Homo sapiens: one gene and its partners. The protein of the gene in region 1 purifies or fractionates together with the protein of each later gene. This does not show direct contact. Each region holds a gene or a part of one and is shown in the gene's direction. Other genes may lie near its edges. The genes, in order: DZIP3, SMC3, GOLGA5, TLE3, MAGED2, GRIPAP1 and LIMD1.

Region 1 (3,500 bases):
CAGGCCTGATTTGACTGGGTGGCTGTGCTTCAGCCTTTTCGTGGAGAGGGGCAGATACCTGGATTTCTATTTAGGTTATGTTGTGATGTTAGACATCCAGGAGAGATTGAGTAGGCTATCAAATTACTGGTAGTTAAAGGAGCGGTCAGGGTTGGAGATAGAAATTGAAAGCCTTGAGACTAAATGATATAGGACCAAGTATGGATAGAAAAGACTTTTTAGGACTGAACTCCCTGATATTTAAGTATTTAGAGGTTGGAGAAGTGTGGAGGAACTGGCAAAGGAGACAGAAGTTAACTGCAAGAAGACACAGGTTCTGTCTTGACGCCATGGTTGCCTACAGGTACCAGCTTTACTTGTAGCATATGAGCTGCCTCTTGACTTCTAAAGGAGAATTTTAGGTTGGCCAAGAAGGCTGTTACAATCTACACACGGGCTCCCTCTTTACATCTGCCTTCAGAGGCCTTGAGGTGTGCAGAAGGGTGGGTGAGTTCATTTTTTAAAGCAATATTGAGTGCTTAACGTGTGCCAGGTGCTATTCTAGGCACCAAGGAATGAAAACAAAGTTTTCCTAACTTCATGGGGCTTATATTCTAGTGGGGACATGAAGCCAAATCTAAAACTGAGGGATTATTCAGTAGACATAAACGGCTGGTAGAACAAAAGTTTCACTGGCCCAGTTTCTAAAGCATGAAATCAGAAATCCTGCAGTAGAAAATTGGCACAGGTCTAGGCATGGGGTCATTTAGATAACCATGTGCCCAATATAGCTAAAATAATTCAAATGCTAATATTAATCTGATTCTACCCCTTATGCAGAGTCAGGAAACTAAGTGTATGATTAGTGTCAACTCATATTTTTCAGAAATGTTACCTTTGTCACAAAGCCAGAAAATCTAAAAAAAATTAATTCTCCTTTTACAATTATTTTTCCTGTTTTCTTTCACAAGTATCAAGTATTACAGTTCAGCTAAACTCTAAATGATTTGCCCAACCATGAAGTTAACTTTCACTTTTCAAACAGTTTCTGCTTTTTCTTTTTATACATTTCACAGCATTCAACTTTAGGTTAAGAGTACAAGGTTTGAATATTTTGAGTATATATTCCCCCATTTTCATATCTTATACCACATCTCAAATCTAATCACATCTATCCCAGAATAAGAATGTTGCCTTGCCTTTTTTTTTTAATGCAAGTACTATCCATTGTTTCTGAATCCAGTGTTAAGTATAAGTAGAGTGTAAGTAAAGATGAAAATGATATACTTTTAAGTTAAGGAACAGTAATCCTGGTAATTACTATTTCTTGAAGACCTATCTTCAAGATAGGTGCAGAGCATGGGTCTTTGCTTATCTCACTTTTAAATTTCTGGTCTTTCAGAAAATAAATACTATCAGGCTTATGAAATGAGTGGATATCTATTTCCTGAATTAAAATGTGAAGCTGTTTTCGAAGACAGTAGTGTCCAGAGTACAGTATGCACACCTCAGGGGATATGTGAAACTGTCCATTGAGGTGTGGGAACAAATATTAAAACGTTTTTTACTTGCTTTTATCTTATTCTTTTTTTATGTTATAATAATTATGCCTGCATATAATTTATAAGTGAATTGATATTCTTATATTTTCAGCATATTCTCAGATCTTTTACTGTTTTAGGGCTATGTGATCAAAAAAGTTTGGAGATTTCATTTTTAAAAATCTTTAACTTTGAGAGATCATTTAGCCAGGTGTGAACTATTGTCCATTTCATTGTTTATTTCAGTACCATGTATAGTATCTGAATTGTTTTGTTGAATAGAAAAACTCTTAGCAAAAACTAGTGTGACTAGTGACTATGAAATATTAGGCTGGCATGATTAATAACTTTTATAGTATTACTAAGAATGTGTAAATAGTTTCATTTCTGAGTATGCATATGTGCATATTATCTAGTCCAGCTCATAATTATACACTAAGCTTATATAAAATTAAATATGTTACTAGAAGTAATGGGACATGGAAGAAAATAGAATTGCAGTTGGTAAAATTTGGGCATGAATTTCTGCTCTTACGGATTTATTAGCTATGAGACTCTATAAGCCTCAGTTTCTTAATTTTTAAAACTTATTACAATAATGTTTATCTTCCATAGTTGTGTAAAGATCAGATGTTTATTCAAGGTGCATAGCTTAGAGCGTGGCACATAGGAGCTGATGAAAATTAAGCTTATTTTCAATGCAACCCAAGGTAATACACTCAGTTAATACTATATGAAAAGAAACTCTTTATAACCAAAAGCTCGCTCTGCCTTCTTACCTACACGCTTCTTACAAATGTATGCTTTTCTGAGATAACAGTGAGCTGCCAATTTTCTTACATGGGGTGGAGCAAGCTGGAGGTGGATAGGGCAAGCTTTCATTGGTGGTGGTAGAGGCAAGTACATGAAAGAAGTATTCCCATTCCCTATTTGATTACCATCTCTGCGTGCGTTATGTCTCAGGATTCTCCCTTCTTTTCTCATTATCTAACAACTATAATGACAACATAATATTTTTAAATTGCTGAAAATATTCCACCTTTGGAGTATGTGCTTAGGGGTAGCATATGCTTCTTCCAGTGGTTTCTAGCTACGTTTCTGAAGAGTGTGGTTTTAGCAGTGCTATCTGTAAATGTTTGAAACTGATGGCTTGTTTAGTATCTGGATAGTTTTTCAGGTAAATCCTAACTTGTGCATATTCATTGTAGGCACATTCCAACTATTCAAAACAAATTAATATGTATACTATAGGTTTACCTGTGTAAGTCCAAAAGTAACTAATTGAATAGATCTGAACAGAATTTAAAACCTGCTTAAGACAAGATGTTAATTTTGCTTTAGGAAAGGATGTTTCCCATGTTGGCAGATTTGTAACAAGGGGTGATGAGTATACATTATAAGGCACTTATTTCCTGGTTTAAGCAGATATATTGCTAACAGTGATCTTTGCAAAGTGGCAAGAGCTAACATAAACAGTGATCTTTTGGGATAGAAAATATCTTCCAGTTTCTGATAACTTTTGCAAAGATTTTTCCACCATCATCCATAAGTTCTGGAGTTTGAATAAGCAAACTGTATGTTCTTTGGGAGCAAATAATATTTTAGCTACTGGTGTCTAGGTGTATTTATTTTGTAGCTTTACCAGGAAGTTAAACAAATTAAAAAATGGAGAAATTAACAGTAAATTATAAAACCAAGTAATCAGTATATTTTGTTCATACTAATTATTGCTAATACAAAATAATGGTGCAACTTGTTAACTTGTTATTCTTTGAGTCTAACCTAATGGCCTCAGCCATTTTTGTCTACACAGAGCTCACTAACATACGAGAAATAAAGACTTTCATAGTGCTGTAACCACAGAACAACTGCACAGTGGACCGAATGTTTGTGTCCCCCCTCATTCAGTGTTGAAATCCTAACCCCCAATGTGATAGTATTAGGAGGTTGGGCCTTTGGGAGATAAATTAGGTCATGAAG
Region 2 (3,500 bases), on another chromosome or scaffold:
TTGCCCAGGATGGTCTCCATCTCTTGACTTCATGAGCTGCCCACCTCGGCCTCCCAAAGTGCTGGGATTACAGGTGTGAGCCACCGCGCCCGGCCAATCTAAGATTTTGTGACTCAGTAGTAACATTGACTTTTTGTCAGTGGAATTAGTAGTAACATTGACTTTTGTCCATTAAAATTTTGGACAAAAAGTCAGTGTTACTACTGAGGATGAATAATTGTCAGTACTCTGTGGGAATATTTACAATTACTTTGATATCTGACAATAATTAGTTATAATACAAACAGATGAATGTAATTACTTTATGAAGCAGTTTGAAGCCCTTCCCCTGAAGGATGATCTTCAGCTTTATTTTGCTTGTCTTATTGCTTCCCAGTAAGGCAAGGATTTTTGTTTGCTTTGGTCTTTTATGATTCCCCAGCTCTTCTAAGAATGCCTGGTACATACTGGGGTTTTGGTAACTTCACTAAGTGGATGAAGTGTCAGCTTCCTTAAACTCTAGCCAGTGAGGCTATTGGATTTTTTCAGCTCAGTATAGTCTACTAAATTAATGAATACAGTTCATTAATTCTCCTTAAGGAAACAGCATCTTACGTTAGGTTCTTAGAGATTTGTTATAGGTTCTGCCAAGATTTTTAACTCATTTTTCTTGAATGTAAAATAGTTGAAAATAGTTTTTGTGTTCTGTTGTGTGTGTGTGTAGAGGGGGCAGTATGAAAGTATATAATGGACTATTATGAGAACTTAGAATTTTTTTTCTAAAATTCTGGAGTGTATATTATAGAAATAGGAAGATTTAGATCACTAATGAACAAATTAACTTTTAGCAACATGTTTTATAGTATTTAATGGTTTGTGTTTTCTGGTGTGGTATGCTCTTTTGCCTAAAGACAACTTTTAAAAACTGAAATGGGGCCGGGCGCAGTGTCTCACGCCTGTAATCTCAGCACTTTGGGAGGCCGAGACGGGCGGATCATGAGGTCAGGAGATCGAGACCATCCTGGCTAACACGGTGAAACTCCGTCTCTACTAAAAATACAAAAAACAAAAAAAACAAACTGAAATTGGATTTTTCAACAGCATCATTGAGGTATAATTCACATACAGTAAATTGTACATATTTAGTGTACATCATTTTTCCTAGTCAGGAAAGTGGCAAAAATAAAGTATATAATTTGATGAGTTTTGACATACGTATACATCTGTAAAACACCACACAGTTAAGACACCACACACCACAGTTAAGACAATAAACACGTTTATTACCCAAAAGCGTTTTCCATACCCCTTTGTAATTCCTCCCTCACCTTTTGTCCGCCTCCCCCATCCATCTGCAACCACTGATCTGCTTTCTATCAGTGTAGATTAGTTTCATGAAATTGAATTTTAAATTTATTTTTATTTCCATAGAAACTGGACCAGGATCTTAATGAAGTCAAAGCTCGAGTAGAAGAACTGGACAGAAAATATTACGAAGTAAAAAATAAGAAAGATGAACTACAAAGTGAAAGAAAGTTAGTATAGACTAAAATGTGCATTAATGTTTTCAGTAATGTTCGTTACTAGCTGTTATGTGGTCTTTAAGTTACAAGTTAACCGGTCAGGCTTGTTTTCTGTATTTTGATTCTAAACTGTATACTGTTAATGCATCCTCATATGTGTTTAAAATTAAAGACAGTCTACTTTTTATTTATTAGCTACTTGTGGAGAGAAGAGAATGCAGAACAGCAAGCACTTGCTGCTAAAAGAGAAGATCTTGAAAAGAAGCAACAACTTCTTAGAGCAGCAACAGGAAAGGTGGGCAGGTTCTTTTCATCACCTCTGTTTACACTGAGTCATTGAGTTAATCGTTATGTAATAATTTTTTACCTTTCAAGGTGTAGGTCATGGGTTCCAAGTGATAAATAGGAGTCCAAATTATCTTCTAAATATGAAATGATAGAGATTAAATAGTTTTATTACTACACATACTATTAATAGCACTTTTGATGTTCAGATAAAGAGCCCATTTTTAACACTACTGTTATGGAACAGAGCCTATCATATAAGGTGTTACATGTAGTTGGCATATTGTGAGGAGGTGATGTGTTTGTTGGAGAGGATGTTTAGTTTAATCACTGGTATATTTTTAAAATGTATGGTGTTGTGGGCTCATTCCTTACCAGGAGTGCCATTGATGATATTATTTTAATATTTTTCATTTCTGACAACTTACAGGCCATTTTAAATGGAATAGACAGCATAAACAAAGTGCTAGACCACTTCCGTCGAAAAGGAATAAACCAGCATGTTCAAAATGGCTATCATGGTATTGTAATGAATAACTTTGAATGTGAACCAGCTTTCTACACATGCGTGGAAGTCACTGCTGGAAACAGGTTAAAGCTTTTGCTTGATATTTAGCATTTTTAGAAGAGGGAATAAGAATAGCTTAAACAACTTTTGTAGTTTTTGTACAACATATCTTCCATTATCTTTTTATATCTCGGTTCCTTAACTTTCTAATTAAAGAAGTAGATGCTAAGTATTTGTTCCTAATTATAGAAGCTAGAACTTTCCTCTTTTGGGAGTTTCTCCCTCCCCGCCATTGGAATTTTTAAAGTAGTCTTATTTTCCAAAATTATTTGGATTATATAGGAAAAAACTGTTTGATGCTTAAGTGTTTATAACATTTTAAAAGTGCACACCTTTAGTCCCAGCTATGCAGGAGGCTGAGGTGGGAGGATTGATAAGTTTGGGCAACATAGGGAGACCCTGAGTACCAATAAAGATTTGTCTTACTCTGTTTATATTTAGGTTATTTTATCACATTGTTGATTCAGATGAAGTCAGCACGAAGATTTTAATGGAGTTTAATAAAATGAATCTTCCTGGAGAGGTTACTTTTCTGCCTCTTAACAAGTTAGATGTCAGGGATACAGCCTATCCTGAAACCAATGTGAGTCATTGTGTGATAAGGTGTATTTCTCTTTTATAATGTTATTTTTTATCACATAATCTAACACATGCTAGTGCCCAGGCACTATACACTGGGATTCAGTGGTGTATGAGATAAAAATATCTGTCTTCCCATGGACCTTAGTGCTGAGTGGGTTTTGGGGAGGGAGACAGAAGTCACAGCTATGATTGGTGTGGTGATGCACGCCTGTAATCCCAGCTACTTGGGAGGCTGAAGTGGGAGGATCATTTAAAAAGAAGAGAAAAAAGCTAAGATATGAAACAAATCATTGCAAATGTGCAGTGTTAAAAGCGTAAGTACAGGATACTTTGAGAGCATATCTGGGAGTGACATAATTAAGGTTAGGGAGTTGGAGAAAGATTCCCAAGGAACTGTCATGTATAGTTTAAAAGTGTCTTGACGTACTTAGGATTAAATGAAAAAAATGGCTAGTAAGGTGATAGACTTCGGAAGCATAACATTGCTTTTGTTGGTAACAAAAGTGCACTTTAGGTGGATTAAAAATATTCTTCAGACACCATTCTTAGAACAGTGTAATTGC
Region 3 (3,500 bases), on another chromosome or scaffold:
GGGAAAGGCCTTGGATGGCTATATTTTTAACAAACTTCCTGGTTGATTTTAATGCATTGCCATGTTTGGGAGTTACAACTTTACATTTCCTATACTTTAGCTCCTAACAAATTAAGAATTTTTTCCCATCCCTACTATGTTGTTTGGCTGAGCTAATAAATCCCATAAGATATCCGAATGGATGGTTGTAAAATATGTTTCAAAGCTAAATGATATCATTAATTATGATATAAAAATTTGTCACAGAGCGAGTTTGCTGCACGCCTTAATAAAGTGGAAATGGAACGTCAGAATTTAGCAGAAGCAATTACACTGGCCGAAAGAAAATACTCAGATGAGAAGAAGAGGGTTGATGAACTGCAGCAGCAAGTCAAGCTGTATAAGTTGAACTTGGAGTCCTCTAAGCAGGAATTAATTGACTACAAGCAAAAAGCTACTAGAATACTGCAAGTAAGCATGAAATGTACACTTTTGGATGTTAAGATGTGCAAGTTAACTGAAAGGCAATTTGAGACTGTGTAGATACTGTGTGAGGTGCTTTGTTCATGTTCGTCTGATTGGCTAGCTTTAGGTGCCTTACTCTACTTTAGAAATTTTATTAAAGGATGCAGTGTTTCTTGTTCCTACCACTTCTTTTAAAAAAAAAATTCATTCTGCCACTGCCTAGTTCAGGTCTTCAACCTGTCACCTTACTCACTGTGATGATATTAATGCTTGTTGTTGAGCAGCTGTTTATTCTTCCTTGTTGATCTCCTATTGAATTTTTGCAGCAACTGCTTTAGGACTCATCCAGTTCTCAGAATTGTCTCACCCAGCTTTTTTTCCCCTCCTTCAGATCTAAGGTGATCTTACCCTCTACTTTACTAAGAAAGACTACAGTCATCTAATGTCGTTTTTGAATTCTCTTTCCTTTGTCCCTCAGAGGGAAAACATGTCCTTTCATTTTTTTCTAGGATCATTTTCCTGCCTGTGCATTGATTCCATCTCCCATCTCATGTGTAAGCCCTTTCTCCATAGATCTATGCCCTTCCTTCCTGTGTGTGCCTCTCTGCTGCTGCTGCCTTCTGGCTCAGCTTACTCAAGAGCACATGGTTATTTAGTGGAAAAATGAAGACTAGATCTCGGACTCCTGCCTAAGAGAAAAACAGTCTCTTTTAGCTTTGTGACCACTTTGCACTATTTCCCTATCTTCCTTTCTTTCAGTGTCATGCTTACCAGAATTGTGTACGTGCTGTCTTCATTTCTGTAGAACTTGTTAACTCTTATCTCCTTCTTTTCCTACTACATGTCTGAAATTTCTTCTCAAAAATATTTGATGACCTAAATAAATATTCTCTGTCCTTTTCTTAGTCTCCATACCTTGTATTTTGGTAGAACATTTGGCTCTGTTAACCCTCCCACTTCCTTGGAACTCCTGCCTTCTATGCTATTCACATCTCCTTGGCTCTCTTTTTGTCCTCTTCTACTGCTGTTTCTGTCTCTCTTGGGCGCTCTTCCCAATCTCCAAAGAGTCAGAGTCCTCCTAAGCTCTGTCCTGAACCCTCTTTCATTGTCCTTTCTTACCTTGCACTGCTGTATGCTGCCTCTGCTTCTAATAGCCGCCTGCATATGACTTCAAGCATGTTTCCAAGCCTGACCTCCTGACCTCAGTGCCCAGCTGCCTACTGTGCAGGCATGGAGTGTTCAGCTCCCAGACCAACTTCTCCCTCATTCTTCTGTTCTGGTCAACGTTACTGCCATGTGGCAGTAAAGCTTGAAACCTCAGGGTCATTTTTGACTTTACCTTTTTTCTTTAGTCTCAAACTTCTAATGGCTATGAATACCTTTTTTTAATGCTACTTCCATGAAGTATCATATTGATCTCCTCCTCAAACTCTTCTTTCTAAGTACTTTTTTGTATCACCCTAATTTGTTAATTCATTGAAAAGTTACTTATTGAGCACCTAACTACTCACTAGGCACAGAGGATACAAAGCTCAAAAGATGTGTCCTCTTCCTTTAAGAAAACATTCATCTTAGTGGAAAGAAACAGATAATTGACGTAATAAGGTTATTAATGCAGTACAATGGGAGCTTGAGAGAAGAATCCCTTAAAACTTGCCTGAGGCTGTCAAAGATCACTGGACTGAGGAGATGTGGTATAAAGAGAAACTTGAAAGATGAATAGGAAGACTCATGATAGGGAAGAGATTTCCGAGAGAACAACCTGTGCCAGAGCAAGGGGGCCAGAGAGAACATGGCATATTTAAGGGACTGCAGCTAGTTCCATACTGCTGGAACATAACGTCTTCAGAGATGGGAGGCAAAAGACTCATAAAGTTCAACGGCAGGCAGAAGCCATGGTCAGGTTTGAGTGTGAGAACTGTGGCAGCCTGATGAAAAGGTTAGGGGAGATTTGGGCCTCTGTCTTGTTCATCGTTGTATCCCCAGCACAGTGCCTGGTATTCGGTACATTGTTGAAAACATGGAAGTGATAAGGGGTGGCATCAATGGCATGTAGATGGTGAAGAGGTGATCATAAGAAATAATGAGGACCTGATCAAAGTTTTTGGCAGTGAGGATGGCAGGCAGGGGACAGCTAAGAGATATGTGGGAGATAGAATATATGACATGTGGAGATTTAACTGGAAGGATGGGGGAAAAAGGCAAATGGAATCCAGGATGACTCCAGGTTTTTGGTTTAAGTGTATGAATGATGTTTCCTTGTGTTAATAAAAGGGGAAACAGGAAAGAGAACAGGTTAGGGTTAAAGGAGAGTATGACGAATTATGGTAAGTATGCAAAATTGATGCAACATTGAGGTGACAATGTTAGAAAGGTAATTAGAAGTAAGTTGGGAGAGTAGGTAAGTTTAGGCAAGAGCGATGTGTAACCTAACGGGGAGAAAGGCTGAGGTCTAAAAACACAGTCTTAAACATCAGCATTTACAAATTGGGCAAAAGGATAGCCTGCAAAAGAAAAATACTGAGAAGGTGAGTGGTCAGAGATTGGAGAGAACCAGGAGGAGACTGATGCCATCCAATGAAGCCAAGCAGAGGGAGAGTTTCAAGTGGTGCATGATCACCAACCACAGCACGCGGCTCTGATGTGACAAGTCCCGAGCTAAATTCCTGGACTTGGCAACTAGGAGGTCCCTGGGGACCTCTCAACAGAGAGTTCCGGGGTGCGCTGGGAGCTGAAGACATGGAGGCAGGGTACTTGACCATGGACATGAGGACAGTAGCTAGATGGGGGAATGAGGTTGGGAGGTTTCTGGTTTTTTATTAAAAAAAATCTTAAAATGTTATAAATGATCATGTTTATTATAGAAAATTTGAAGAATACAAAAGAAGTTTGAAGAAGGAAATGGAAATAACCCATAATCCTACCACCCAGAAAAGGAAAAATTATTTTTGATGGAGGAGAATGACTTTAAAATATTTTAATTTAACGTGAAAGCTGCTGGTCCTTGTTGTTCCTAGTCTAGAATTAGGACTTTATAAACTGGTCTTTGCATGTCA
Region 4 (3,500 bases), on another chromosome or scaffold:
TGCTCAGAAATCCAGGACCACATTTGGGCTGAGGAATGGCTAGGTACCTAAGAGAGGAGTCATTGAAGCTGAAAATCCATGTTCACTGCCTCGGTACTGATCCTCTAACAGTGGCATTTTTTCGGAGAGGCAGTTTGCCTAGATAGGCGGAGGCCTGGATTGGACATTTTAAGGCTGAGGTCTGGTCCCAGCTTTATGAGGCCCTGTGTAGTTCTCTTGGCCTCTCTGAGCCTCAGTTTCCTTATCCATACCATGGGAATAATTCCTGCTTGACCAACCTCTCAGCTTTGTTTCGGAAGACCCTTTATAACCTGACTGAGGATCCAGATTACCTGGCTAGCAGGGACCCACTTCAGTGGAATTGGAGGGGGAGTGGGAAGCCCAGCACTCTCTAAAGAGCATGAGTCTTTACCTCATCCTCATCCCTATTGGCTTCTGGCTTTGTGCCCCATCTGTGAAAGTTTTCTGCTAAAAGACCCCCCCTGGGAACCCCCAAGAGCTGGGCTGTTTACCATGCTCGCTGAGGTCCATGCATGGCACACATGGGCCTCAGGAAACTCCAGTGGGAATGAATCAAGATGCTGGGCAGAGGCAGCAGTGGGCAGGGCCGAGGCTGTGCGCATGGCATGTGGCGTGGTGACGGTGTCAGCGGCGGTGTAGACTGAAATAATCAGGCTTTGGAAACCAGGTTGTCAACAGATGAGGCCTACGGCAGGAAGGACAGGGCTGTGTCAGAGTGGGAGGGGGGATGGGGGGACGGGCTGGAAGCTGTCCCAGAGGGGTTAGTCTGGAGTCCAATTAGTGGTAGCTTCATTCATATTTCCTTGCCTAGCCGAAGCAATAAAAAATACTTAGTTTTTTGGCCGCCTGCCAGCCAGAGGCGGGCTGGATCGATGCCGCTAAATGCCTGACATGACTCTCCGGTAGCGGCGAGGGTTTTCAGCCTGACTGCATGAGAAGAAAGAGCTCGCTGTTCTCCCGAGCCGAGCACCGGGTCGCGAGGAGAAACACGAGCAGCCGCACGCCCCCTCCCCTGCCCGCCCGCCTGCAAGGGGCAGCCAGTGCGAGGGGCTGGAAGCATTTCTGCTTAGCACAGGGTGGCCACCACCGTCAGAGGAAATGAAATGAAATGACGGTGATTTTTCTGCCGGCGATTGCAGCAGCTAATTGAATTGTGGCTGTGCGCGCATCGCCACCGCTCCTGCACGGCTGTGGGGAAGGTTGAGCTGCAGTTCCATTATAACCTCCATTTTTTCTTCAAGGCTTGATAACTCTGCCATTTTAATTTGCTTCGGGCAGAAACTTGGCCGGGTAGGGCTGCCCAGAACCCGGCTTAGGAAAGGAAATTAAGTTCTGAGGCTGGTTGCCGCACTATTCCCACCGAATACTGCCCAGCCCCGTTCCCTCCAAGTGGCCCTTGCCCCTGAGCCACGCTTGGCCTCTGGGAAAGTGGAGAAGAGAAGGGAAGCCTCATTCCACTTGCCTTCTGATGCTCTTCTCTTCTGAACAGATGTCCCTCTGGGTCTCCATATGACCTCCTGTGTTGCATGGGGACTGGGACCTGGGATGGCCTGTCCTTTTCTTCCAGCTCCATCATAGCTGGACCATGAGCTCCTGGAGGGCAGGGATTGTATCTCATTCATTCTGCCACTCCTGGCCTGCAGCACCAGGGCTGACCCAGGGCAGCTGCTCGGAAATTGGTGGGTGGGTGAAGGTAAAGTTTGGACTCTTAGAAAGGAGTAAACCTCACCAATATCATAGAGGGGCATTGGTCCTGATATTAGTCTCTGGGCACAGAGGTTTGCTGGCAGGTGCCCTTGCCAGTTGCACTTCCCTCCCTGCTCCCCAGCTCGGTGGTAACAGCCACATGGTGATTTCTGACCACTATCAACCCCTAGGACTACTCCGTCATCTTCCCTCTTCCCAGGCCTCCCATCCCAAAGGCTTCTCATCCTCATTTGCTTTATAGTTGAGGGAGAACTCACGAAATTTTGGGGTTCCCTTTGTGCCACCTTCTGCTAGGGGAGCTTGGGCACATTCACCAACCTCTTGGGGTCTCCACTTGGTGATGGCTACAGAGGCAGTGACTGTCCCTGCCCTTGCTCCTTTCCCTGTCTGTCAGAGGGAAAGGCTTCATGACGTGGCATTTTTGTTTTTTTTACAACCCTGGTGTTTCTCCAGAGTTGCTGACAGCCTCACCGTGGAGGCGGGGGTGTTCACACAGAACGCTTGGCTGCTCATCTCCACTGGGAAGTTGGTGGCTGCCTGACGCCCTCCTTCCCTATCAATCTCCCCATTCCTGTCGGGCTCAGCAAATGAAGTATTGCTCATGGCCCCTGCCTGTCAGCTCAGATCCATCTTACAAGACTCAGTGCAAATTCCACTTATCCCTCCTTTGAGCAAATGAGTGTGGCAAGCGCGAGATGGGTGGTGAATGAGACCCAGGTGACCCTCGCCCTCACAGAGCGTAGTCCCACAGGCCAGAAGGCAGACGGCTTACTGCAGGGTTAATTATTTAATAGCAGTGCAGAGCTGCAAAAGAGAATTGGGGATGCGCCCAGGGCATCTCCCCGGGGACTCAGTCTCAGGGGAGTGGGGAAGGCTTCCCTGGCAAGGCTCTGATGGAGCCACGATCTGCAGGGCAGAGAGGAGTTCAGCTTCTCTTCCCTCCCCTGACCTCCGTGTCACCTGCACTTAGCTGTGTGCGGATGTGTGAATTGTTACACGCAGCAGAAAGTTTTAACCCCGAACCCTCTTTTTCCTTCCAGAATAACTCTGTGTCACCCTCGGAAAGCCTCCGGGCCAGTGAGAAGCACCGGGGCTCTGCGGACTACAGCATGGAAGCCAAGAAGCGGAAGGCGGAGGAGAAGGACAGCTTGAGCCGATACGTACGTCCAAGGCGCCATGGCACCACTGGGGTTTCTGTTGGGTAGGGCAGGGGGTGTCTGCAGGGCCCAAGCTGTGGCCAGGGTCTTCTTGTGGTTGGCAGTGAGTCAGAGAAGCACAGGTTGGCGATAGGGGACCCTATTGAGGAGAGCAGGGTGGGAACAGGGCTAGGGTGAAGTTCACACACGCTATGAGCATGCGAGCCACTGTGGGGCGGAGGTGGATGGGGAGGTCGTCCTAGCCTCCATGGGGTCTCTTCCCACAGACAGGCCAACAACCCCATGCTGCTGTCATGGTGCTGCCGGAATCCCACTTGGCTCTAAGGGGCTGCTCCCAGTGACCCCCAAAATGTGGACCCTATAGTCCTCTCAGTTGGCCTGAGGCATGCACTCACTTGGCCACCCAGTCATGGCTTTTACTAGCCTTTTAATGGGATGCCCCCGGCACGTGAGACCCTAGTGGAAGCATGGCTGTTGTGTTTCCCCTGTGTCAGGCTGTGCAGGGCTGAGAGCTGGGACAGAGGGAAGGGGAGGATATGGTGCAGGGCCTCAGCGGTCTTGCACCCAGCCCTCTTCAGCCACATGGCTGCTGTGTGGCTTTGGACACATTGAGCA
Region 5 (2,885 bases), on another chromosome or scaffold:
TCCTGGAAGAGATAGGGAGAGGAAAAGGACCACTTGCTTCATCTGGTGACGTTGAGCTTCCTCTCTGTTGATGCAGGTGAAGCATCTGGATGGGGAAGAGGATGGCAGCAGTGATCAGAGTCAGGCTTCTGGAACCACAGGTGGCCGAAGGGTCTCAAAGGCCCTAATGGCCTCAATGGCCCGCAGGGCTTCAAGGGGTCCCATAGCCTTTTGGGCCCGCAGGGCATCAAGGACTCGGTTGGCTGCTTGGGCCCGGAGAGCCTTGCTCTCCCTGAGATCACCTAAAGCCCGTAGGGGCAAGGCTCGCCGTAGAGCTGCCAAGCTCCAGTCATCCCAAGAGCCTGAAGCACCACCACCTCGGGATGTGGCCCTTTTGCAAGGGAGGGTAAGAACTCTGTCGTTTTTATTCTGCCTTTTCTACTGCCTTGGCTGTCCTTTTCTTTGCCATCGTCTCAAGTTTTCTGCAAACTTGTTTTGGTCTTTCCATCTTTTTCTACTCTGCCAGGCAAATGATTTGGTGAAGTACCTTTTGGCTAAAGACCAGACGAAGATTCCCATCAAGCGCTCGGGTAAAGTCCTACCAATCCTCCCTCTGCCCTGAGCTCTGCCCTCCATTGCCCTTACACCATTGTGCTGGGGATATCCCCTGCTCTTATGCTTATGTCTCTGTCCTCCCAAAGTTCTGATTTGGCAGTGCTAGCATCTCTGTTGATAAGCACAGAACCGGGTTATGCCACCCTTGGTGTGGTTGGCAAAGAGTCTATAGCTTGGGCATCAGGGCCACCTGGCATCTCTTCAGTCAGGTGCTCACAACACTCTCCCCTTGCAGACATGCTGAAGGACATCATCAAAGAATACACTGATGTGTACCCCGAAATCATTGAACGAGCAGGCTATTCCTTGGAGAAGGTGAAGGGGCAGCCCTGGGGGATGGGCACAGTGGGGAAGCCTTGAATTGAACAAAAATGTACAAGTCCCTTCTCGGGAACCAAAGAGACCTGCTAATCCAGCTCCATCGCTATGCTGAGGGGCAGACAGTGGCCTAGGGAGGGGTGTAGATTAGCGATGGGTCACACAGCAAGTCAATGGTAAAAGTGCAGCTAGGACCCAAGACACCCAACTTAATCCTGGCTTCTGTCCGTCCATGGCAGCTCCTGCCATGTATTTGAGATTTCACCTCTCCCTTTCATTCCCCATTCTCTGTCTCCCTAGAGTCCCACTCACCACAAAGATGATGATGACAATAGTACATTTGCAGCGTGTTTACCGGGTGCCAGGCACTTAGCTATGTACTTTGTGCGTATTATCTCACTGATTTCTCACACATGCGAAACTCCTAGGTACATAGGGAGCTGCAGCATGCCCCGGAAGCTGAATTTTGTCATCTCACAAGCTGTTCTCCCCATCCACAGGTATTTGGGATTCAATTGAAGGAAATTGATAAGAATGACCACTTGTACATTCTTCTCAGCACCTTAGAGCCCACTGATGCAGGCATACTGGGAACGTAAGCTGGGAAAGGGCTGAGGTGTGGGGGGCTTCTGCTTTGGCCATGTGCTGCTACTCCTCCTTTGTCCTACTTCCCCCATCCTCTTAGAGAGTCAGGAAAGACAGGGTCTCAAAAGCCCCGTCCCAGTTCCTATGCATAGTTGGAGCCCTGCTTACAGTGGTGGCACCTGATTATGATTGACTGGAGGGTGTAGGAGCCTGGAGTGGGACATTCCTGCTGTCAGGTTTGCTGTCTCTGTAGAAGCTTCCCAGGAAAGCAGGCCTGTCGTTGCTTGCCTCTTCCTACTGGGTGCCTGGCCTGGCTTTGGCAGAGTGGTTCTCAAGGAGGGCTTCCTGGTGTGGGTGGATCAGGATGCATGAAGCGCAGGAGTGTCAGTGGGGCTGAAGGTTCTGGGACAGAAAGAAGGGACTCACATTGACTGAGTGCTTGTGTTGTACCAGGTTGGCAGCCATTCTTCCATCTTCTTGGAAACCCAGGGAAGGGAAAATATGATTTTTTCTATTTTACTGAAGAGTAGACTGAGGCTTGCAAGTCTAAGTGCCTTGCCAAGGGTGGCATAGAGCTGGAAGCAGAGACTGGGTAGAATTCTGTATCTGAGGAATCTGGGAGAGGCTAGCCTAGTGAGTTGGCTGGTGTGTCTGTTGCAGATGGCTGCTGAACATAAACCTCTCTGTCCTGTTATTTCTCTAGGACTAAGGACTCACCCAAGCTGGGTCTGCTCATGGTGCTTCTTAGCATCATCTTCATGAATGGAAATCGGTCCAGTGAGGGTGAGTGGCTGGGCTTGCAGCTGAATGGGTGGCTGTGGTCTAGATTCCATGTGTTCAATTTCTGTCCCTGTCTCCTCTTGCCTCCCCTCGCAGCTGTCATCTGGGAGGTGCTGCGCAAGTTGGGGCTGCGCCCTGGGTATGATTGGGCTCTCTCAGCGCTTGCTGTCCGTGTTGTCCTTTGGCAAGAGAGGACGGTCCTAGGATTGCATCAGTCTGGTGGTCTGGTGGAGCGGGTGGGGTGCTGGACTGGGTAGAGGGCCCAGGGTTCTGACCTGGGTGGATGATGGGTGAATGGTCCTGAACTCTCTGCTCCCTCTCTCAGTGTCTCTTGGGCTTCTATGGAGCTTCCCTCTTGTGCTGGAAACCTCTTTTCCATCTTGGAAATGCCTCTGCCCACATCTGGGAAGTGCCATAGCCTTGAGTGAATTTATTTGTTTATTTATTTTTCTTTTTCTTCTCTCAGGATACATCATTCACTCTTTGGGGACGTGAAGAAGCTCATCACTGATGAGTTTGTGAAGCAGAAGTAAGTATCTCTGTCTGGTGTTCATGTGTCCCATGCATTTGGCCTATTTCAGAACTGAGTGATAAAGCCGTGGTGCATG
Region 6 (3,500 bases), on another chromosome or scaffold:
ACACCTTTGGCTCTGGCCTGTCTCTTCCTAGTTCCCTAGTAATGGCCCAGTGAAGTCCCCAGTAAGGTGGAGTGGGAAGACTGGAGTCAGGAGGACCTAGGTTCCAGTCTGGCTCCCTAACTTATTAGCACCTGTGTGTTCTGGGACAAGTCATTTCACTTCTCTGAAACTGAGCCTCTTCAGTTAGTTAGGATATCAATTCTTTTTCATTTTTTAAATTTTAATTTAATTTAATTTTTTTTTGAGATGGAGTCTTGCTCTGTCACCTAGTCTGGAGTGCAGTGGCGTGATCTCGGCTCACTGCAAGCTCCGCCTCCCGTGTTCTCGCCATTCTCCTGCCTCAGCCTCCCGAGTAGCTGGGACTATAGGCGCCTGCCACCATGCCCAGCTAATTTTTTGTATTTTTAGTAGAGACGGGGTTTCACCGTGTTAACCAGGATGGTTTCGATCTCCTGACCTCGTGATCTGCCCGCCTCGGCCTCCCGAAGTGCTGGTATTACAGGCGTGAGCCACCACGCCCGGCTCCTTTTTTTTTTTTTTTTTTTTTTTTGAGATGGAGTCTCACTCTGTTGCCCAGGCTGGAGTGCAGTAGCGCGATCTCAGCTCACTGCAACCTCCGCCTCCTGGGTTCAAGCGATTCTCCTGCCTCAGCCTCCGGAGTAGCTGGGATTACAGGCGCCTGGCACCACGCCCAGCTAATTTTGTATTTTTAGTAGAGACGGGGTTTTACCATGTTGGTCAGGCTTCTCAAACTCCTGACCTCAGGAGATCTACCCGGCTCAGCCTCCCAAGCAATATCCATTCTGATTCCATAATAGAAACCAGAATAATAGTAGATTAAATAAGATACAAATTTAGTTCCCTCTCATTAAAAGTCCAGGTAGGTTATTCAGGGATGGAATGATGGCTTTCCAGTCATCTGTGACCCAGGTTCTTTCTCCATTGCTGTTCCTCCACCTTCAACACAAGACTTTTATCTTGGCATCCAAGACGGTTGCTGAAACTCCCCGACCATCATGTTTGTATTCTATCTGGAAGGAAGGAGGAAAGGGGCAGGGAAGAGTGTGCCCCTTTCCTTTAAGAGCATAACCTAAATTACACTCACCACTTCCACATACAGAAATAAATCACATGGCCACACCTAACCATAAGGGAGGAGGGGAAACATCTGCTAGACAGCTGTATGCCCGATGATAAATTTTATTGCTAGGGAAGTAAGGAAGAATGAATACTGGGGAGCAACTAGCAGTCTCTGCTATATTTCCTATCCAGAAATTGAGATCACAATACCAACTTTACCAGGGAGAAGGGAGATGGTCTACCAGATGGTCCTGGGTGACTAGCACCTACTGGATGCTCTTTATCAAACTCTTTCCCTTTGGTGTCTGCATTAGGAGTCATTACGGGCCAATAGTCGACTGCTGGAACAACTTCAAGAAATAGGGCAGGAGAAGGAGCAGTTGACCCAGGAATTACAGGAGGCTCGGAAGGTAGGGGAACATGAGGGTTGAAGGGAGAGGATGGGGGGTAGGAATTGGCTCAGTCCATGGGGATGGGAGGAGGTGATATAACCAAACATGTGGGGATAGGAGGGAAAGGAAAATTGACTGGTTTCTGGTTGACCAGTTTCTTGGCCAAATCCATGAGAGTGGGAGGGGAAAGAAAGAAAGTGACCAGTTCTATAAGGATGGGTGAGTGCCTTAGCCAGTTCAGTGGGGATGGGAGGGAGTGGAGTTTGGCTAGTTCCTTGGGCATGGGAAGAGGGTTGGAGGCCTTTTTTCGATGTTGTGGAAGGAAGTTGACTGCCATCGTCCTGGCCCCCAGAGTGCGGAGAAGCGGAAGGCCATGCTGGATGAGCTAGCAATGGAAACGCTGCAAGAGAAGTCCCAGCACAAGGAAGAGCTGGGAGCAGTTCGTCTACGGCATGAGAAGGAGGTGCTGGGGGTGCGTGCCCGCTATGAGCGTGAGCTCCGAGAGCTGCATGAAGACAAGAAGCGTCAGGAGGAGGAGCTCCGTGGGCAGATCCGGGAGGAGAAGGTGGGTGGGTAGATGATGATGCCCTTCTTCCTCTAAAACCTGGGAACCACAGCGTTGCTGATAGGCCAGTGGGTGGCATGCATCAGGTGCCCGCTCCTCTGCCTTCCTGGCCCATGACAGTCTGCCCCATCCCAGGCCCGGACACGGGAGCTGGAGACTCTCCAGCAGACAGTGGAAGAACTTCAAGCTCAGGTACATTCCATGGATGGAGCCAAGGGCTGGTTTGAACGGCGCTTGAAGGAAGCCGAGGTGAGTTGGTGATGCCTGGTGAGGAACAGAGGCTGATTGGGGCCCTCATGTCAAACCACAGAAGCAGGAGTGGTCAGGCCCTGGAACTTCCCGAGATTTTCTGGACTTAGGGATATCCCCACAGTCCCCTGGCTCAATAGCAGCCCTCTGGAGTGGATCAGGGGATGGCCATCAGATAGGACAGACTGTCACGTGTTAAGGCTGCCCTGCCTTTGTGCAAATTTGGAAAGGCACCTCTTTCTCCTGAAACTGTACTTCTGTCAGGAAATTAATGCAATACACTGATGTTATTGAACAAGAACCTGCTGGGTGCGGTGGCTCACGCCTGTAATCTCAGCACTTTGGAAGGCCGAGGTGGGCGGATCACTTGAGGTCAGGAGTTCAAGACCAGCCTGGCCAACATGGTGAAACCCTGTCTCTACTAAAAATACAAAAATTAGCCGGGCATGGTGGCTGGCGCCTGTAATTCCAGCTACTCAGGAGGCTGAGGCAGAAGAATCACTTGAACCCAGGAGGCAGAGGTCGCAGTGAGCTGATATCGTGTACTGTACTCCAGCCTGGGTGACGGAGTGAGACTCTGTCTCGGAAAAAGAACCTTTGTTGCCATTTTCTGGAAATCTCATAATACACTGAAAGGCATTGTCATGTAGCAGTGAAGAGCACAGGCTGGAGCCAGTTGTTTGTCTAGGTTTGAATCCTGGCTGGGCCATTTCCTAGCTGTGTGACCTTGGGCAAGTTATCTGACCTCTCTGTGGCCTGTTTTCATCAATGGTAAAAAGGGGGTAACAATAATATCTACCATCTAGGTATTACGGGAGGATTATAGAAAATGAGTTAATATATGTAAAACCCTTAGAACATTCTTGGCATGTAGTAAGCGCTATGTTTTGTTAAATAAAATAAAATGTAAATGCAAATCTAAGTCAACCATGCGAATGGTGCAACTTTAGATGTGACACTTCAGCATATTGCCTAAGGGCGTGTGGGGTTCCCTGCAGGAGGGTCATTTCTGCATACCTCTGGGCCCCCATTGCAGTCCCTCATACCCCTAACTGGGCATGATACCTTCTGGGGGGCTGTGGCCAGACCTGGGACTTGTCTTGTAGGAATCCCTGCAGCAGCAGCAGCAGGAACAAGAGGAAGCCCTCAAGCAGTGTCGGGAGCAGCACGCTGCCGAGCTGAAGGTGCCTCTCGCATGATGGTGTTCCTCTCTC
Region 7 (2,545 bases), about 63 Mb from region 1:
TGGTGTCTATTCTTACCAGATGTATAAAAATGTGAGAGGCCTTGGAGAATCATATCCCAAGAATCAGCAGTTTCTTTTACTGGACCTTTAAGATTGAGACTTGTAAGGTCCTGATGCAGTGACTTGTAAGGTCACTTTGTCTCTCTTGTGAATGTTACTGTTTTTTCTCTTCTGAGGTTATGACCAAAGAATCCTCAAGGCGAGTGATCCTTCAGGTTTGAGACAGCCACATGCAGGAAGACAGGACTTGTAGAGTGTTGGGGCCAAGTGTGTGGTTAGAATCCTTGGGGTGGGGAAAGAGTTTGTTCTAGACTCCAGTGTAGTCCTTGTGGCTACCAGGTCTGACGTGCCAAGGACACGGGAAAGCTGGGAGTGAGGATACTCATAGTCATAGCACCTTACACCAGAATAAAAGTTTTTTTTTTCTTTTTAAGTGATGAGAGAATGGCTAGTCTGATTTTGCCAACATGGGCTGCTATTTGCTTAAGACCTTGATGGTATAAGGAGTGAAGATGCAATCAGGGTAAAAGGCGGTCTGGAGTTGTGGTGTGCTGGCAAACCAGCCCTCTGGGGCAAAAAATTAAAAAGCCTTGATATGGAGTGTTTGCTGATACCTATGATGTAAATATTCCCGCCATGGCCACTTTCCAGCTACCAGCAAGGCATCCTGGCACCAGGGATTGGGAGGAGATGGCATAGTCCTAAGAGTCAGCCTTGGGCATTGGGCCATGTGGGACTGGGCAGTGGGGTATCTGGTCTGGTTCTAAGTGCTGTGATGAAGCAGTAGCAGCTGTAATAGCTGGCATTTCCCGTGTGCTCATCACATAGCAGATGTTATTCCAAGGACTGTATGTTCTTTATCATCCCTCATTTGATAGACAAGACAACTGAGACACAAAAGGGTGAAATAAACAGTAAGTACTCCATCCCAGGCCATCTCATCCAGAGGGTGCTGTCTTGACCACTCTACTACTCTGGTTGATGGGAGGCAGTAAATTGTCCATCAGTATACTTCTTCATCAAAGCTACATAGTCAAAAAGCCACAGGAGGCTGTGAGGAGAAGCTCACTGCTGCTCTGTTGAAGTCTGTATTGGTTTCCTATGGCCACTCTTAACAAATTACCACAACCTCAGTGGCTTAAAACAACACAAATATATCATTCTGTCATCCTGGACACGAGCCAAAGGTTGTCGGCAGAAGCGAATTGCTTCCAGAGGTGCTATAGGGTGCTGCCCATTCCTTGCCCCTTTTCCGCTTCTAGAGGCTGCCCATTTTCCTTGGCTTGTGGCTGCATCATTCTGGCTGCTTCTATTGTCACACCTCCTCTCTGACCCTCCCTGCCTCCTTGTAAGGACACTTGGGATTACGCCCATCCAGATAATCTAGAATAATCTCCCATTTTGTGATTCTTAATAACATCTGCAAAGCCTCTTTTACCTTGCAGAATAAGATATTCACAGGTTCTGGTGAGGAGGACAGGGACATCTCTGAAGGGGAGGGAAGCAGGAGATAGGGTCTGGAGGCATGGAATTGGCTTCCTAAGGCCAATTCAGGCTGACTTCCTAGAACTAAGTCAAAAGGAAAACCCCAACTTTCCACGCTCAAGTAACAAAAGGACCAGAGGCTACTCCCTTTGCAACCTCCCCACCCCCAGCCCCTTTTCTGCATGGCAGGTGAAAAATTGAAAGTATCGCTAATTGATCCCCTCCCACAACCAATCAGACTGGTCTTAGGCCAAGTCTTCATTTGCCTAGGAGTATAACTTTGTAACTTCAGCCTCTGATTGGGCGTTTTACACAACCAGTCAGATGTTTGTATAGGGTGGTGTAACTTTGTAACTTTGCTTCAGCCTCTGATTGGTCCCCTCCCACAACCAATCAAACTGATCATGGACCTCTGCTTCATTTACATAGGGTGTACACCAAGTAACCAATGGGAAACCTCTAGAGGGTATTTAAATCCCAGAAAATTCTGTAACCGGGTTCTTGAGCTGCTTGGGCTGCTCCCACCCTGTGGAGCGTACTTTCGTTTTTCAATAAATCTCTTTTGTTGCTTCATTCTTTACTTGCTTTGTGCGTTTTGTCCATTTCTTTATCAAGACGCCAAGAACCTGGACACCCTCCACCGGTAACAGGAGGAGCATTAGTCAGCCTACCACAGACTCCAACGAACGTTTTTTGAGAGGAAATGAAAGAATATTCCTAAGTTATTGGGTGCCTTTTCTTCAGGAATCCCTGAAAGTGGGGGTTTGCAATTTTCCCTGGATTGAAAACAGAAATGCTTCCTACACAAACATGATTGAGACCTTGTACTCTAGGTGTAAAAAAACAGAGTAGGTCATACTCTGTGGGTTATGGTCAGAGAGATCTGGTTAGAAGTTCCCAGGTAGGCGACAGCCCTAGATGTGTGACACTTCTAGGAGAATCTCTGGCTATGTGGATACGTCCAGGTGTGTAAGGCAGCCTCAGGGACTGCCACCACTTGGTCACATACATGTCCCTCCAACTAATCCTAGCTCTCAAGGACAGGTGGTTCTGGGCCCTG

Evidence for each region.
Region 2: the proteins of DZIP3 (region 1) and SMC3 purify together in Homo sapiens (affinity purification with mass spectrometry, with the first as the bait; one study listed by BioGRID). This does not show direct contact.
Region 3: the proteins of DZIP3 (region 1) and GOLGA5 purify together in Homo sapiens (affinity purification with mass spectrometry, with the first as the bait; one large-scale study listed by BioGRID). This does not show direct contact.
Region 4: the proteins of DZIP3 (region 1) and TLE3 purify together in Homo sapiens (affinity purification with mass spectrometry, with the first as the bait; one study listed by BioGRID). This does not show direct contact.
Region 5: the proteins of DZIP3 (region 1) and MAGED2 purify together in Homo sapiens (affinity purification with mass spectrometry, with the first as the bait; one study listed by BioGRID). This does not show direct contact.
Region 6: the proteins of DZIP3 (region 1) and GRIPAP1 purify together in Homo sapiens (affinity purification with mass spectrometry, with the first as the bait; one large-scale study listed by BioGRID). This does not show direct contact.
Region 7: the proteins of DZIP3 (region 1) and LIMD1 purify together in Homo sapiens (affinity purification with mass spectrometry, with the first as the bait; one study listed by BioGRID). This does not show direct contact.

Annotation. Positions count from the first base shown.
Region 1 is NC_000003.12:108,596,222-108,599,721, forward strand, and holds part of DZIP3 (E3 ubiquitin-protein ligase DZIP3), read left to right. Parts: intron 1-3,500. UniProt on the Homo sapiens protein: E3 Ubiquitin ligase proteins mediate ubiquitination and subsequent proteasomal degradation of target proteins.
Region 2 is NC_000010.11:110,588,195-110,591,694, forward strand, and holds part of SMC3 (structural maintenance of chromosomes protein 3), read left to right. Parts: intron 1-1,410; coding exon 1,411-1,514; intron 1,515-1,697; coding exon 1,698-1,797; intron 1,798-2,217; coding exon 2,218-2,378; intron 2,379-2,796; coding exon 2,797-2,938; intron 2,939-3,500. UniProt on the Homo sapiens protein: Central component of cohesin, a complex required for chromosome cohesion during the cell cycle. The cohesin complex may form a large proteinaceous ring within which sister chromatids can be trapped.
Region 3 is NC_000014.9:92,811,305-92,814,804, forward strand, and holds part of GOLGA5 (golgin subfamily A member 5), read left to right. Parts: intron 1-246; coding exon 247-450; intron 451-3,500. UniProt on the Homo sapiens protein: Involved in maintaining Golgi structure. Stimulates the formation of Golgi stacks and ribbons. Involved in intra-Golgi retrograde transport.
Region 4 is NC_000015.10:70,059,918-70,063,417, reverse strand, and holds part of TLE3 (transducin-like enhancer protein 3), read left to right. Parts: intron 1-2,768; coding exon 2,769-2,888; intron 2,889-3,500. UniProt on the Homo sapiens protein: Transcriptional corepressor that binds to a number of transcription factors. Inhibits the transcriptional activation mediated by CTNNB1 and TCF family members in Wnt signaling.
Region 5 is NC_000023.11:54,810,745-54,813,629, forward strand, and holds part of MAGED2 (melanoma-associated antigen D2), read left to right. Parts: intron 1-76; coding exon 77-385; intron 386-505; coding exon 506-569; intron 570-829; coding exon 830-909; intron 910-1,412; coding exon 1,413-1,507; intron 1,508-2,200; coding exon 2,201-2,280; intron 2,281-2,373; coding exon 2,374-2,416; intron 2,417-2,743; coding exon 2,744-2,806; intron 2,807-2,885. UniProt on the Homo sapiens protein: Regulates the expression, localization to the plasma membrane and function of the sodium chloride cotransporters SLC12A1 and SLC12A3, two key components of salt reabsorption in the distal renal tubule.
Region 6 is NC_000023.11:48,981,765-48,985,264, reverse strand, and holds part of GRIPAP1 (GRIP1-associated protein 1), read left to right. Parts: intron 1-1,394; coding exon 1,395-1,490; intron 1,491-1,824; coding exon 1,825-2,037; intron 2,038-2,172; coding exon 2,173-2,286; intron 2,287-3,392; coding exon 3,393-3,470; intron 3,471-3,500. UniProt on the Homo sapiens protein: Regulates the endosomal recycling back to the neuronal plasma membrane, possibly by connecting early and late recycling endosomal domains and promoting segregation of recycling endosomes from early endosomal membranes.
Region 7 is NC_000003.12:45,681,751-45,684,295, forward strand, and holds part of LIMD1 (LIM domain-containing protein 1), read left to right. Parts: 3' UTR 1-2,545. UniProt on the Homo sapiens protein: Adapter or scaffold protein which participates in the assembly of numerous protein complexes and is involved in several cellular processes such as cell fate determination, cytoskeletal organization, repression of gene transcription, cell-cell adhesion, cell differentiation, proliferation and migration.